Linked DNA regions of Homo sapiens: region 1 is linked to region 2. The links come from fine-mapping of genetic effects on gene expression. Tissue or cell type: whole blood. Region 2 holds a variant in brackets; the other region holds the start of a gene. All regions are shown on one strand. Distances are from middle to middle.

Evidence for each region. PIP is the estimated chance that this variant, and not a neighbour inherited with it, causes the effect.
Region 1: TAFA2 starts here. The variant in region 2 is fine-mapped to the expression of TAFA2 in whole blood (INTERVAL, PIP 0.99).

What each region holds. Positions count from the first base shown.
Region 1 is chr12:62,189,529-62,197,528 of GRCh38, forward strand. It overlaps TAFA2 (TAFA chemokine like family member 2), which reads right to left and starts at 3,245. Exons shown (of 5, transcript NM_178539.5): 1 at 1,731-3,245. RefSeq lists an enhancer at 2,637-3,170 and a silencer at 4,540-4,834.
Region 2 is chr12:62,437,351-62,445,350 of GRCh38, forward strand. No RefSeq gene overlaps it. Among named protein-coding and RNA genes, the nearest start is that of MON2, 25 kb to the right of the region's middle. The variant T/C (reference allele first, on the strand shown) is at 4,619.

The DNA.
Region 1 (8,000 bases), 250 kb before region 2:
TAGGATGTTAGGTGCCAATTTTGATATTGCAAATGATTAATCAGTCTGAGAGTACAAATGCAAACATGGAAAGGCTGGGGTAAGTACAAATAATCTTAATCTTCTGATTTTTAAAGCTTTAGAAGTGTTTTTAATCTCCTTTCCTGGTTATTTTGGTTTAGCACTTTACACAAAAATCTTAAATTAATTGTTCATTTGTCTTAACTTATATGCCTAATAAAGCAGTTTAGGAGTGTTAATTGACAACTCTGAATGTTGATGTTTAAAACAATCTAGTTGAGAAGACAAGAATCAGATAATTATCATTCAGTCAATAGTAACTGAAATTCATCCTGTCCTGTGTGAAGGACCCTGCTACACTACCAAGTACTTTGGGGACACTTCAGAGTAAAGGTTGCTTATGAGTTTGCTTTGTGTGTGTGTGTGTGTGTGTGTGTGTGTGTGTGTGTGTCTGTGGTTTTTAAGGTTTTTTTTCTCCACGAACCATTTTGTAAAATCCAAGAGGGGATTTCATACTCACAAAAAGATAATTTTTTCCCTCTCTCTCTCTTATTGCCATAATCAAACTCACGCAGCAAAGGTGAAGAGAGACTAGCCGCTGGAGTAACATTACTACACATTTGATTCCAAACGCTTCAGGCAATTGTTTAACACTCGGTCAGGACGTGGAATACTCAATAGGGAAGCCTCGCGTCCACCCAAAGGCTCTACGAGCGTCTATGGTTCTTCCTTTTCAGACAGGATAACTCAACCTGCAGTTCTGAGAGAAATAGGGCGACGGATCTCAAACTTTCCTTTGCAAAGCCAGTTTCTGAAAATAACACGTTCCCCCATTGATAAGTGAAGATCAGTAGCCTCAAGAAAACAATACTTGGTAGGCACCTGGCCTTTCAGAATTGAAGGGGGAAGGAATGGCAAAGCAGTTAGCAGAAAACCCGGGTACTAGTAGCAAGATCCGGGAGACATCTAACCGGAAAGAAATAAAAAACCATTAGTTTCCCGAAGCCATTCTTATTCTGAACGCTGTTCGTTAAGAGAATCATTTACTAAAGCTCTCTTGTAGTAGCCTTTACAAAAGCTTTATTTCATTCAGTAAGAAAGCGCCCCGTCCCAAATCTAAATAAACCTTACATAGATGAGGCTCCGGAAATTATCAGCTTGATTCTTTATGAAGATAGTTAGAGGTGGATAAATCAATAGACTCGCTGAAACACCCACCTTCTGCAAACAGGCCTGAGAATTAACTAATCAGAAGTGGACAAAAAGTAGGGATTTCAGAAAGATGACCTGACACATCCCATTGATCTTCCCTGGAATGCGACCCCCAACTCCTTATTAAGAGTCCAAAATGGTTACCAGCCAGGATGGGTCTGGGTGAGGAATCGAATTACAACCCACTTCAATCCTCGACCTGGTCGTTTGCTGTTATTAGGAGAAATGGGGCAGAGAGGGAGGGCACCGCTCACGGAGCCTCATTTCGCATGCTCCGATCCCCTCTCGGCGTCCCTCTACTCCGCCCCTACCCTGACCGCCCGCGAGGGAGACGCCGGCCGATGGACCCGCATCTGCCCTCACCTCTCGCCTTCCCCGGGCGATCCCTCTACAGTCCCGGACCCCCGAGAAAGGGGAAGGGAGACGTGTGCACACGGGGGCTTCCGGGACCGCGGTCCTGCAGTTGCCGCTCCGGTCCCCAGCGCTGGCCGGCGACCCGAGGCGCGGCTCGCACCTACCTGCAGCCCCGCTTCCCGGTGGCGGCAACACCTAGCGATGCTCCTGCAGCTTTTGCGGGCCGGCGCCAGCCTTATCGCTCTCGCATCGCTTCCAAGATGCCAATCCGCCGTCACCATCCAGGGGCATAGGGAACCGAAGTCTGGTGCTGTGTGATCGTGGAGGGCGGCGTGTGAGTGTGGCCCTGAGCGTGCGAGTGTGCGCGCGCGTGTGTGGATGTGTTTCCTCCTCCGATGGCAAAGACGGTTCAGGAATCTGACATCCAAGCTGGAATCCCCCTGAAGCGGGTGAAGGTGAGCCTGATCCTTCTCCCCGCTTCTTTATTCCACAGTGTCAAAGTAATCAAAAGATTTGTTTACTGAGGAAAAGCCAAAGTCCCGCAGCCCTTGGCAGCGCCCGCGGTCGCCTCCTGTCCTCGCCGGATGCGCGCGGTGCGCTCAGCTCCCTGGACTGCAAGAATCAAGGCGGTCTTGCTGCAATTACCGCTCTTATTCCATCTCTGATTTGTTTGCTTTTAAGGCCGACTAAAGACTTTTCCTCTCGCCTCACGTCGTCTCTCCCTCTCACACACACACACACTCACACATCCTCCGTTCCCTCTCTCCCGCCCTCCCTCTTGTTCTCTGGGGAAAGGCAATTGGACAGAATGATTCACCTTCAGGAAAGCAGCCTCGGCCACGCACTTCTCGAGTTCCCTGGCTCTCGCAGGTACCGGGTCTCCAACGTGGCGGAGTTGCTGGGAAGCTCGGGACAGGAAGGAGGAGAGGCTCTGAGCTCAGCCGATGTCCCCCCTCCAGACGCCCGCGTTCCTCCGTCCAGGTGCCCCTGTTCCCACTGCTCGCAGATAGGTCCCCGCTGGTGCCCTCGCGGAGACTTGGCGCCTTCCACTCGAATCCACTTAGCAGCAACTCCTGGCCAGCTTCAGCCCCTCAATCCCGCCTCGAAGTGCTGCGGGCAGAGCCCCACGCAGCCCACCCGCTGCCCTTCTAGGCATCGTGGGCTGGAAGGAAGGGAAACCCGCCGATGTCCCCCTGGTAGCAGTGCCCTGGCACCGTCACCACCGAGGAGGTGCGAGTTCCAACATCGAACACAAGCGAGCAGGTGTCGCCTGTGTCACTTTGCTAAAGGCGGGAGGGGAGAAAGAAAGGAGCGGGGGGAGGGGGCCGAGGAAACAAATCCAGATCACCGGCGGAGAAAGAAGCCGTTTAGCAAGCAAAGCCTCCTCTCCGCGTCCCACCCCAGATGCTATACTGTCAAAAGACACTGATGCTAATCTTTTAGAAAGTCGCCATAAAGGGCAGAGCCCCTGCTCCACTCTAGAACCCTATTCCACCCAGCCTGGCTGTCCAGTGAGTACAGAGTGACTTGGCTCCCCCGTATAGTGCAGCGAGAATGCAGGAGAATAGGTCCTGACACTCCAGGTTGAGTTAAGCAGTAAAATGGAATGGCAGGGCCGGGCGGCGTTGCCTCGCCTCTCTCTCCCAACAGCCAGTTCTGTTAGCCCCAGCAACTGCCGTTGAGAGCAAACAACGGTCCTGCAGAAAAAGAACGAGACAGTAAAAGATGAGGAGGCAACTGGTATAAAAGCTGGACTATGTCTCCCTCTAGAGGGTCAACCGGATTAGAACGCTTTACTAGATGTAACAGACCAGTTTCTCTCCATAAAGAAAAAGAAAAAAATATCTGGTTTCAGATAATTTGCATTTTTACAAATTACAACTTCTCAAGGATTTAGACGGAGGATTTTCACTGCAGCCCTATTAAGCAAAGCCCTTGCTAAAGGAACGTCGTGATATTCATGACGCTGGAAGGTCATGTCCTTACATGTTTGGTCAAATTGGGTGTCGGTTTAAGCGCTGTGCATATGAGCTCAAATGAAGGGTCTTCTGAGGCTCACTTCGATCATGTTTGGAGATGAGCAAAACCTTAATCTAGTGATTAGAAGACTATTCAAAAATGAATAATTAGTAAGAATGAATTCAGAAAAAGAAAATCTGAAACAAAGAAAGGGAATGCTGACCCAGGAAATTTTACAAGTCCTTTACAAGGAAAGATAACTCAAGAATCTGGTTTTGGAGCCAGTTTTCATACCTCTTTTTCAACTAGACCAATAATGGTCAAGATAGCTAAATTCCTTCCAGCTCTAAAGGTCTGTGCTTTTATATAGCTGTGATTCACTGAAACCATTGACAAATTAGGTATCACAAGCTCTCTTCACCAGCTATAAAATAAAAGTAATACTACATACCATATTTACAAAGAAATATAGAATATGTGCTTCACTTAGCTATTTTATCTTAACATGCTTAGTAAATCAACCATATTTTGTATCTAAAATGCATCAAGTAATTTAATTATGTTGAGGTGGTCATTTTTATAAAAAATAGCTCCACCGATTTTATAAAGTTTTGTTACATCAGTCCAAATCAAGCTAGGTCCCATCTGTAACCTTAACATTTAGATTTTTGTGAACTTACTATTTGAGCTGGGGGTTTGCTTTCAAAATGTTTCTGTATGTTCAAAAATTGTAAAATGTGTATTAAAGTTATTATTAAACACCCTTCCATTCACTCTGAATTTCTGGAGCAGTTCTATTTTAACTTGATAATCTAAATTAGCACAGTCATAAAGAAAGAAAAGAATGTATTTTTTAAATAGCTGAGACTAGTTGAAATCATTTAAAACAAAGCACCAAAACTAAACAAGGCAAGTTTTACCGTAACTAATTGCTCTATGGCATATTTGACTTTGTCTAGTAGTATACAGCAATCATTTGTTTCCAAGGATCTCTCAGATAGTCTCTTTCAAAAGATTTATGCCATGTGATTAAATATTTCATTCCACTTACATAGTAACTTATATCCAGGAAAGCAACGTTTACATTTTAAAACACCTGGCACTGTTGCACTGCAAATCTTACAGTATTTTTTTGTCTGCTGTGTTCAATAGTGTGATGAAATTCAAGCAGGAATGACATTGGAAACTTGGACTCTGTACTAGAAAGAAGTCACTTACAAAATCACTTTAGAACATTGGCTTTCTTTTCACACACACACACACACACACACACATACAAAAAAACATAAAGCATACATTATAATCTTTCTACCTTCTAATTCATTAACTTTTTGTGGTTGTAATCTATAGTTTTGTCATCTTGTTAAAATTTTATTTGTATTGTTTAAGTGTGGGACATTTTCAGCCTTATTTTTCTAACTAAACCCACTGTGTTTTTACAATATATGAAAAAGTAAAGAGAACAGATATATAAATTAATTACAAAATAGAACAAAATTTCTTATCCAATGTCATATGATGCTGAAATTCTATCATAACCTCTGTGCTTTTTGTAAATAATTCCCAATAATTTTTAGATCAAGATATTCCTATTTCCAGCATCTCCTAGACAAAATAAAATCTTTTGCATTCTCTTCAAAGGAAACAAAGTAGTAAAGATTCTCCTAATTTAACAGAAATTTTTTGTTGATACTTCTTACCTTCTACAGGCATGCCTCAAAAATGTTGCAGGTTTGGTTCCAAACCACCACAAATATTGCAATAAAGTGAGTCACACAATTTTTTTGGTTTCTCAACACATGTGAAAGTTATGTTTACACCATACTGCAGTCCATTAGGTATGCAATAGCATTTTGTCTTAAAAATGTACATATCTTACCTTGAAAATGGTTTAATGCTTTTTTTAAAAAAAGTGTACTGATGATCTGAGCCTTCAGTGATTCCTAATCTCTTTGCTGATGGAGAGTCTTGTTTCAGTGTTGATGGCTGCTGATGGATCAGGGTAGTGGTTGCTGAAGGTTGGAATTGCTGTGGCGATTTCTTAAAATAAGACAATAATGAGGTTTGCTGTGTCAATTGACTCTTCCTTTCACAAAAGATTTCTCTGTAACATGCAATGCTGCTTGATAGCATTTTATCCACAGTAGAACTTCTTTCAAAATTGGAGTTAGTCCTCTCAACTCTGCCACTGCTTTATCAGTCAGGTTTATAAAATATTCAAAATCCTTTGTTGTCATTTCAACAATATTCACAGCATCTTCACCATGAGTAAATTCCATCTCAAAAAAAACTACTTTGCTCATCCACAGAAGCAACTCTTCTAGCATCTAGAATGGTGAATGATCTCCAGAAGCTTTTCAATTTACTTTGCCCAGATCCATCAGAGGAATCATTATCTATGACAGATGTAGCCTAGCAAAATATATTTCTTAAATAAGAAGACTTGAAAGGCAAAATTACTCCTTGACCTATGGGCTGCAGAACAGATGTTGTGTTAGCAGGCATGAAAACAACATGAACCTTCTTGTACATCTTCATCAGAGCTGTTGGATGACCAAATGTATTGTCAATAAGCAGTAGTATTTTGAAAGGAATCTTTTTGTGAAGCCAGTAGCTCTCAACAGTAGGCTTAAAATATTTAATAAAATATGCTGTAAACAAATGTGCTGCTATCAGGCTTTCTTTTTCCATTTATAAAACACAAGCAGAGTAGATTTATTATAATTCTTAAGGGCCATACGATTTTCAGAATAGCAAATGAGCATTGGCTCCAACTTAAAGTCACCAGCTGCATTATCCTCTAACAAGAGAGTCATCCTGTCCTTTGAAGCTTCGAAGCCAGGCACTGACTTCTCTCTAGCTGGGAAAGTCCCAGATGTCATCCTCTTCCAATATAAGGATGTTTATTTACATTGAAAATCTGTTGTTTAGTGTATCCACCTTCATCAATGATCTTAGCTAGATCTTCTGGATAACTTGCTGCAGCTTCTACCTAAGCACTTACTGCCTCACCTTTTACTCATGTATTATGGAGACAGCTTCTTTCTTTAAATCTCATGAACCAACCTCTGCTAGTTTCAAATTTTTCTTCTGAAGATTTTTTACCTTTCTTTCAGCCTTTATAGAATTGAAGAGAGTTAAGGCTTTGCTCTGGATTAGACCCTGGCTAAAAGGAATGTTGTGGCTGGTTTGATTTTCTATCTAGACCACCAAAGCTTTCTCTATGTCAGCAATAAGACTGTTTTGCTTCCTTATCATTGTGTGTTCACTGGAGCAGCACTTTTCATTTCCTTCTTGAACTTTTCCTTTGCATTCACAACTTGCCTAGCAGTTTGGCTCAAGAGGCCTAGTTCTCAGCTTTTGACATGCCTTCCTCCCTATTAAGCTTTTGATTTAAAGTGAGAGACATGAGACTCTTCCTTTCATTTGAACACTTACAGACCACTGTAGGGTTATATTAATGGGCCTAATTTCAATATTAGGTCAGGGAATAGGGAGACCCCAGGAGAGAGAGGGAGTTGGGGGAACAGCCAGTTGGTGAAACAGTCAGAACCACACAACATTTATTAATTAAGTTTGCCATCTTACATAGGCACAGTTCATTGCATCCTAAGACAATTATAATAGTAACATCAAAGACCAGTGATCACAGACCGCCATAACAGATACAAGAATAATACAAAAAGTCTGAAATATTGTGAGAATTACCAAAATCTAACACAGAGACATGAAGTGAGCACATGCTGCTGAAAAAATGGCACTGAGGGACTTATTCAACACAGGGTTACCACAAACCTTAAATTTGTAAAAATAAAAGAAAATAATAATAATAAATAAAAACAATATTTGCAAAGTGCAGCAAAGAAGGGGTCTCCAACCCCCAGGGACTGGTACCCTCCCTGTTAGTAACCCAGCCTCACAGCAGGGGTGAGCTGTGGGCAAATGAGCATTACCGCCTGAGCTCCATCTCCTGTCAGATCAGCTGCGGCATTAGATTCTCACAGGAGCCTGAACCCTATTGTAAACTGCACATGCAAGGGATCCAGGTTGTGCGCTCCTTATGAGAATCTAATGCCTGATGATCTGAGGTGGGATGGTTTCATCCCGAAATTATCCCCCACCAACTGTCCATTGAAAAAAATTGTCCTCCATGAAACCGGTCCCTGGTGCTGAAAAGGTTGGGGACTGCTGCAATAAAGTAAGGCACAACAAGCTGAGGAATAGCCATATTTGTTTAAATTGCCATCCTCCTCAAGTCTAAGCAGTAAAAAATAATTTCTTTAAACACTGAACTTAACTGGATTGTAACTCTATCATAGCTTTCCATGTTCTGTTCGCTAAAAATCACTTTGGTGCACTTCAGGCTTTTTCTTTTTTGCCTTTTATAGAAAATTACTTTATTGAAGTATAATTGATATACAATCAACTGCATGTATTTAAAGTGTACAATTTGATGAGTTTTGACACATGGGTAT
Region 2 (8,000 bases):
AATACAAAATATAGTTGAAAGCTTCAACAATAGACTAGACCAAGCAGCAGAGAGAATGTCAGACTTGAAGACAGGTCTTTTGAAATAACCCACTCTAACAATGTTCCAGAAGGCAAGTGACTTATGTGGAAAGATTGGTACAATTCTTCCGCAACTATTTTTCTCCCCTCTCTGTGCTCTCCCCTATCTCTGCTCTCCCCTCTTTGCATTTTTTGGAGAGGCAGCATGTGTCTGGTTAAAAGTGTGAATTGTGGAGCCAAACTCCCTAGGATTAAATCTCAGCCCCATCACTTATACTAGCAATTAAACATTGGGGAATTTCACTTAATCTTCCTGCTTTAGTCTCCGAATTTGTAAAATAAATATAATAATGTTCACTTTATAGGTTTATTATGAGGACTAAGAATATTTGTAAAGTGCTTAGGACAATGCCTGTTTATGCCTACTTAACTGAGTTCCTATTTCCTATGCCTGGCACATACTAAGGATGATATTAGTATTTCTTAAATAAATATCTCTCCCAAATAGAGGGGAGAAACAGTCCATGAAAGAATAGGTTCTCTTTCTTATCCTCGTCTCTCAATCTTTCTCTCCAGCTTTCTCTCCAACTTTGCCTCTGCTTCTTATTTGCTCAACATTTACTGAGCACCTTCTGTGTACTGGATACTATTTTAAACTGTTGATTACATTTGAATTATAAACACACTGCCCTTATCTTCTTACCATATAATGAAACAAATCAGCACTTGGGCAGGCTATGACAAGGCAACAAGATGGAGGAAGAGGAGGGAAAAGCAGAATGCAAGCTGTTCCCTCTCTCTCTCTTTTGAAGAAAATAAACTAAGAACTTTACCCGTCAAAGTAAGGGAAGAGCTGGCTATCTTTTATTAGAAAAGTTGAGAGGTTTCAAAGTGTTGTTCCTACAGTTAACTTAAAATCGTCTGGTTTTAGTTAATTCTAGCCAGCAGGGGGCAGGAGTGTCCAGCTGTGTGAACCCAGTTATTCTGATCTTTCCAAGACTTCACTAAAGAAAAAGTGCTTCCAACTTGATGTACGGGAGCTTCAAATTCTTAAGCTATACAATTGGTGCACAGAAAAATGATTATTGGTATTAACGTGTTAAAATTGGTAAATAGGAATACATTTCTACTGATTTTGATGGTCGATTTGACTGTCGTTTTCCCACAAACATTTGGTCTCTCTTCAAATCTCCAGGTAACAAAAATTTCTGCCTTTACATTCCTCAGATAATCTCAACTGAGGACAGGGATGTAGGGAAAACACAGATTCTCAAGACATCAGGCCTCCCCAACTGGGCAACCTTGGCTTGTTATTTAACCTCCCTGAGTTTTTGCTTAAAAAGTCTGTAAAGACTAGGCTGAAGTCCCACTTTGGACCATCCAGGGAACCGCATCCTTTAGGGAATGGGGCTATTATGAGGATGTGTCCAGGTTGACACTGAAGGGCTAAGTCACAGGTATCACCTTGCTCTCTGATCTTTTGGGTTTCTGCACTCACAGCTGCTACAATAGGGGCCCATGCAGTCCTAGAAGTCAAACCCAGCTCAGAATTTTGTTTAAAAGTTTTGCTTCTGGTATGTTTCCAGGAAATTTACATTGTATTTCTTTGTTTAATAATGGTTTTATAAAAGATACAATTTTCACTTTCTACACAACATATACCTTATCATCTAACATTTGCAGTGCTTTTTACAGTTCTTATTTGTGCTTTTTAAACTTTTCTTAAGGCAAACAGGCCTGTTTGCTTTAAGAGTACAGAGAAGAGCATTCTTCAATTTTCTGTTTTTATTTTTTAGTTTCTTCTTAAACCTGAGTATTTTTTTTAATGTTGAAAACAGTACAGGTTCAATATAAAGCATTTGAATGATCACGGTTAAAAGCAAAAATTGTCTAATATCCCACCAACCAGTGATAACCAGCATTAATATTTTGCTGTTTATCTTTCTGATCTGCTGTCTCTGTCTCTTTTTTAAATTTAACTTTTATTTTAAGTTCAGAGGTACATGTGTAGGTTTGTTATATAGGTAAACTTGTGTCATGGGAGTTTGTTGTACAGATTATTTCATCACCCAGGTATTAAGCCTTGTACTCATTATTTTTCCTGATCCTCTCCCTCCTCCCACACTTTGCCCTCAAATAAGTCCCAGTGTGTGTTCTTTCTCTCTATGTATCCATGTGTCTCATAATGAGAACATGTAGTATTTGGTTTCTGTTCTTGTGTTAGTTTGCTAAGGATAATGGCCTCCGGCTCCATCCATGATCCTGCACAGGACATAATCTCATGGGGTTTTTTTATGGCTGCATAATATTCCATGGTGTGTCTGTACCACATTTTCTTTATCCAGTCTACCACTGATGGGCATTTAGGTTGATGCCATGTCTTTGCTATTGTGAATAGTGCTGCAGTGAACATACATGTGCATGTATTTTTATAATAGAATGATTTATATACCTTGGGGTATATACCCAGTAATGGGATTGCTGAGTCAAATGGTAGTCCTGTTTTTAGGTCTTTGAGGAATCACTACAATGTCTTCCACAATGGCTGAACTAATTTACACTCCCCTTTCTCCCACAGTCTCAACAGCATCTGTTATTTTTTTACTTTTTTTTTTTTTTTTTTGAGATGGAGTCTTGCTCTGTCGCCCAGGCTGGAGTGCAGTGGTGCGATCTCGGCTCACTGCAACCTCCGCCTCCTGGGTTCAAGCGATTCTCCTGCCTCAGCCTCCTGAGTAGCTGGGATTACAGGTGCATGCCACCACATCTGGCTAATTTTTGTATTTTTAGTAGAGACGGGGGTTTCACCATGTTGGTCGGGCTGGTCTCGAACTCCTGACCTTGTGATCTGCCTGCCTTGGCCTCCCAAAGTGTTAGGAGTTGGGATTACAGGCGTGAGCCACTGTGCCAGGCCCTTTTTTTTTTTTTTTTTTTTTTTGAGACAGGGTCTCTCTCTGTTGCCCAAGCTGGAGTGCAGTGGCACGAACTCGGTTCACTGCAGCCTCAACCTCCTGGGTTCAAGCAATTCTCCCACATCAGCCTCCCGAGTAGCTGGGATTACAGGGTGTGCCACCACACCCGGCTAATTATTTTTTTGACTTTTTAATAGTAGCCATTCTGACTGGTGCGAGATGGTGTCTCATTGTAGTTTTGATTTGCATTTATCTAATTATCAGTGATGGTGACCTTTCTTTCATATGATTGTTGACTGCATGTATGTCTTCTTGCGAAAAGTGTCTGTTCATGTCCTTTGCCCACTTTTTAATGGGGTTGTTTGGTTTTTTCTTGTAAATTTGTTTAAGTTCCTTATAGATGCTGGCTATTAGGCCTTTGTCACGCACATAATTTGCAAAAAAATTTTTTTCAATTCCGCAGGTTGCCTGTTCACTATGTTGATAGTTTATTTTGCTGTGCAGAAGCTCTTTCATTTAATTAGATCTCATTTGACAATTTTTGCTGTTGTTATAATTGCTTTTGGCATCTTCATCATGAAATCTTTGCCTGTTCCTATGACCAGAATAGTATTGCCTAGGTTGTCTTCCATGGTTTTTATAGTTTGGGGTTTTACATTTCAGTTTTGATTCATCTTGAGTTAATTTTTGTATATGGTATAAAAAAAGGGTCTAGTTTCATTCTTCTGCATGTGGTTAGCCAGCTATTCCAGCACAACTTATTGAAGAGGGTGTCCTTTCTCCATTGCTTATTTTTGTCAACTTTGTTGAAAATCAGATGACTGTAGGTTTGCAGCTTTATTTCTAGTTCTCTATTCTGTTCCACTGGTCTATGTGTCTGTTTTTGTATCAATACCATGCTGTTTTGATTACTGTAGCCTTATAGTATAGTTTGACATTGGGTAATGTGATGCCTCTGGCTTTGTTGTTTTTGCTTAGGATTGCTTTGGCTATCCAGGCTCTTTTTAATTTCCACATGAAATTTAGGATAGTATTTTTAGTTGTGTGAAAAAAATGACATTGATAGTTTGATAGGAATAACTTGAATCCGTAGATTGCTTTGGGCAGTATGGCCGTTTTAATGATGTTCATTCTTCCAATTAATGAGCATGGAATGTTTTTCCATTTGTTTGTGTCATCTATTATTTCTTTTAGCAGTGTTTTGTAAGTCTCCTTATAGAGATCTTTCACCACCTTCGTTAGATGTGTTCCTAGGTATTTTATTGTTTGTTTTTGTGGTTATTGTAAATGGGATTGCATTCTTGGTTTGGCTCTCAGCTGGAATGTTATTGGGGTATAGAAATTCTACCTACTTTTGTACATTGATTTGGTATCCTTAAACTTTATTGAAGTTGCTTATCAGTTTCAAGAGCCTTTTAGCAGGGTCTCCAGGGTTTTCTGGGTATAGAATCATATTATTCATGAAGAGATATAGTTTGACTTGTTCTTTTCTTGTTTGGATGCCTTTTATTTCTTTTTCTTGCCTGATTGTTCTGGCTAGCACTTCCAGTACTATGTTGCATGGGAGTAGTAAGAGCGACCATTCTTGTCTTGTTCCAGTTCTCAAAAGGGAATGCTTTCAGTTTTTGCCTATTCAGTATGATGTTGGCTGTAGGTTTGTCATAGATAGCTCTTTATTATTTCAAAGTA[T/C]GTTCCTTTGATGCCTAGTTTCTTGAGAGTTTTTATCAGATAGAAGTTATAGCTTTTATAGAAAGCATTTTCCGCATCTATTAAGATGATCATAAGGTTTTTGTTTTTAATTCTGTTATGTGATGAATCATATGTATTAATTTGTGTATGTTGAACCAACCATGCATTCCATGAATGAAACCTACTTGATCTAACTTTTTGATGTACTGATGAATTCAATTTGCTAGTATTTTGTTGAGGATTTTTCTGTCTGTGTTCATCAGCAATATTGGTCTGTAGTTTTCTTCATTTGTTTTATCCTTGTCTAGCTTTAGTATCAGTGTGATGCTGGCTTCATAGAATGAGTTAGGGAGGAGAACCTCCTCCTCAATTTTTTGGATTGGTTTCAGTAGAATTAGTACCAGCTCTCTTTTGTATATCTGGTAAAATTCAGCTGTAAATCTATCTGGTCCAGGGCTTTTGTTAATTGGTTGATTTTTAAATTACTACTTCAATTTCAGAACTCAGTATTGCCCTGTTTAGGTTTTCAATTTCTCCTTGGTTCAATCTTGAGAGATTGTGTGTTTCCAAGGATTTATTCATTTCTTCTGTATTTTCTAGTTTGTATGCATAGAGGTGTTCATAATAGTCTCAGAGGATCATTTGTGTTTCTGTGGAATTGGTTGTAATGTCATCTTTGTTGTTTCTGATTGTGTTTATTTGGATCTTCTCTTTTTTTTTCTTTTGATAATCTAGATAGTGGTCTATCAGTCCTGTTTATCCTTTCAAAGAACCAGCTTTTGGTTTTGTTGATGTTTTGTATGAATTTTGGGGTCTCAATTTCATTCAGTTCAGCTTCGATTGTAGTTATTTCTTTTCTTCTGCTAGCTTATGGTTAGTTTGTTCTTGCTTTTCTAGTTTCTTTAGGTGTGATATTAGATAGTTTGAGATATTTCTAATGTTTTGAGGTAGGCATTTAGACCTATAAACTTTCCTCTTAAGACTGCTTTTGCTGCACTCCAGAGATTTTGATATGTTGTGTTTCTGTTATCTTTTATTTCAAAGAATTTTTAAATTTTTGCCTTAATTTCATTATTAGCCAAAAAGTCACTCAAGAGCAAGTTATTTAATTTCCATGTAATTGTGTGGTTTTGAGAGATCTTATTGCTATTGATTTCTAGTTTTATTCCACTGTGGTCTAAGAGTATGGTTGGTATGATTTCAATTTTTTTGAATTTATTCAGACTTGCTTTATGGCTGAGCATGTGGTTGATCATGGAGTATGCTCTGTGTGCAGATGAGAAGAGTGTATATTCTGTGGTGGATGAGTGGGGTATTCTGCAGATGTCTATTAATTCCAATTCATCAAGTGTCGAATTTAAGTCCAGAATTTCTTTGTTAGCTTTCTACCTCAACGATCTGTCTAACACTGCCAGTGGGATACTGAAGTCCCTCGTTATTATTGTGTGGCTGTCTAAGTCTTTGCATAGGTGTAGAAGTAATTGCTTTATGAATCTGCGTGCTCCAATTTTGGGTGCATATATATTTAGGATAGTTGAGTCTTCTTGTTGAATTGAACCCTTTATCATTATATAATGCCCTTCTTTCTACTTTTTCACTGTTGTTGGTTTAAATTCTGTTTCATCTGATATAAAAACAATAACTTCTGCTCTTTTTTTGTTTTCTGTTTGTGTGGTAGATCTTTCTCTAACTCTTTACTTCGAGCCTGTTGGTGTAGTTACCTGTGAGATGGGTCTCTTGAAGACAGCAGACAGATGAGTCTTGATATTTTTATCCAACTTGCCACTTTGACTTTTAAGTGGGTCATTTAGACCATTTACCTTTAAGGTTAATATTGACATGTGAGGTTTTGATCCTAACACAAATTTGTTAGCTGGTTGCTTTGCAGTTTCTGTTGTGTGGTTGTTTTATAGGGTCTGTGAGTTATGTACTTTAGCGTGCTTTTGTGCTTTTATTTCTGTTTAGAACTCCCTTAAGGATTGCTCATAAGGCTGGTCTAGTGACAATGAATTCCCTTAGCACTTGCTTGTCTGGAAAATATTTTATTTCTTCTTTGCTTATGAAGCTTAGTTTGGCAGGATGTGAAATTCTTGGTTGGAATTTCTTTTGTTTAAGAATGGTAAAAATAGGTCCCCAATCTCTCCTAGCTTTTAAGGTTTCTGCTAAGAAGTCCACTGTTAGCCTGATGGGGTTCCCTTTGTACATGATCTGACCTTTTTCTCTAGCTGCTTTTAAGATTTTTTTCTTGCCGGGTGCAGTGGCTCACACCTATAATCCCAGCACTTTGGTAGGCCAAGGCGAGTGTATCACAGGGTTAGGAGTTCAAGATCAGCCTGACAAACATGGTGAAACCCCATCTCTACTAAAAATACAAAAATTAGCTGGGGGTGGTGGTGCATGCCTGTATCCCAGCTACTTGGGAGGCTGAGGCAGAAGAATCGCTTGAGCCTGGGAGGTAGAGATTGCAGTGAGCTGAGATCACGCCACTGCACTCCAGCCTGGGTGACAGAGTGAAACTCTGTCTCAAAAAAAAAAAAGGATTTTTATCTTTAGCAATGACCTTGGACAGTCGTGACTATATGCCTTGATGATGTTCACTTTGTATAGCATCTTTCAGGTGTTTTTTGGATTTCTTGTACCCAGATGTCAATGTTTCTGGAAAGATTAGGGAAATTATCTTAAATTATTCCCTCAAATATGTTTTCCAGTTTGTTTGCTTTTTCTCCTTCTTTCCAGAATTCCATACTTCATACCTTTGGTCGCTTTATATGCTCCCCATATTTCTTGAAAACTTTATTCATTTTTTTAAATTATTTTCTTTATTTTTGTCTCGCTGGATTAGTTTGAAAGACAAGACTCTGAAATTCTTTCTTCTGCTTGGTTTAGTCTATTAATAAAGCTTTCAATTGTATTTGAAATTCCTTAAGTGAGTTTCTCAATTCCAGAAACTCTGGTTGATTTCTTTTTAGGATGTTTATCTCTTTCTTCATTTCCTGGATTGCTCTAGAAGTTTCTTTGTGTTGATTTTCAATCTTATCTTGGATCTAATTGATTTTCCTTGCAATCCATGCTTTGAATTTTTTTATCTGTCATTTCTGAGTTTCCATTTTCATTAGGAACCATTACTGGAGAGCTGTGTGAACTTTTGGTAGTGTCACTACATTCAGATTTTTCATGGTGCAAGAATTCTTGTGCTGGTTCCTACTAATCTGGAGACACTGGTATTTCTAAGTTTTGTAAATTTTTTTTTTTTTTTTTGACAGAGTCTCACTCTGTCTCCCAGGCTTGGCTCACTGTAACCTCGGCCTCCCAGATTCAAGTGATCCTCCCACCTCAGCTTCCCAAGTAGCTAGGATTACAGGCATGCACCACCATGGCCAGC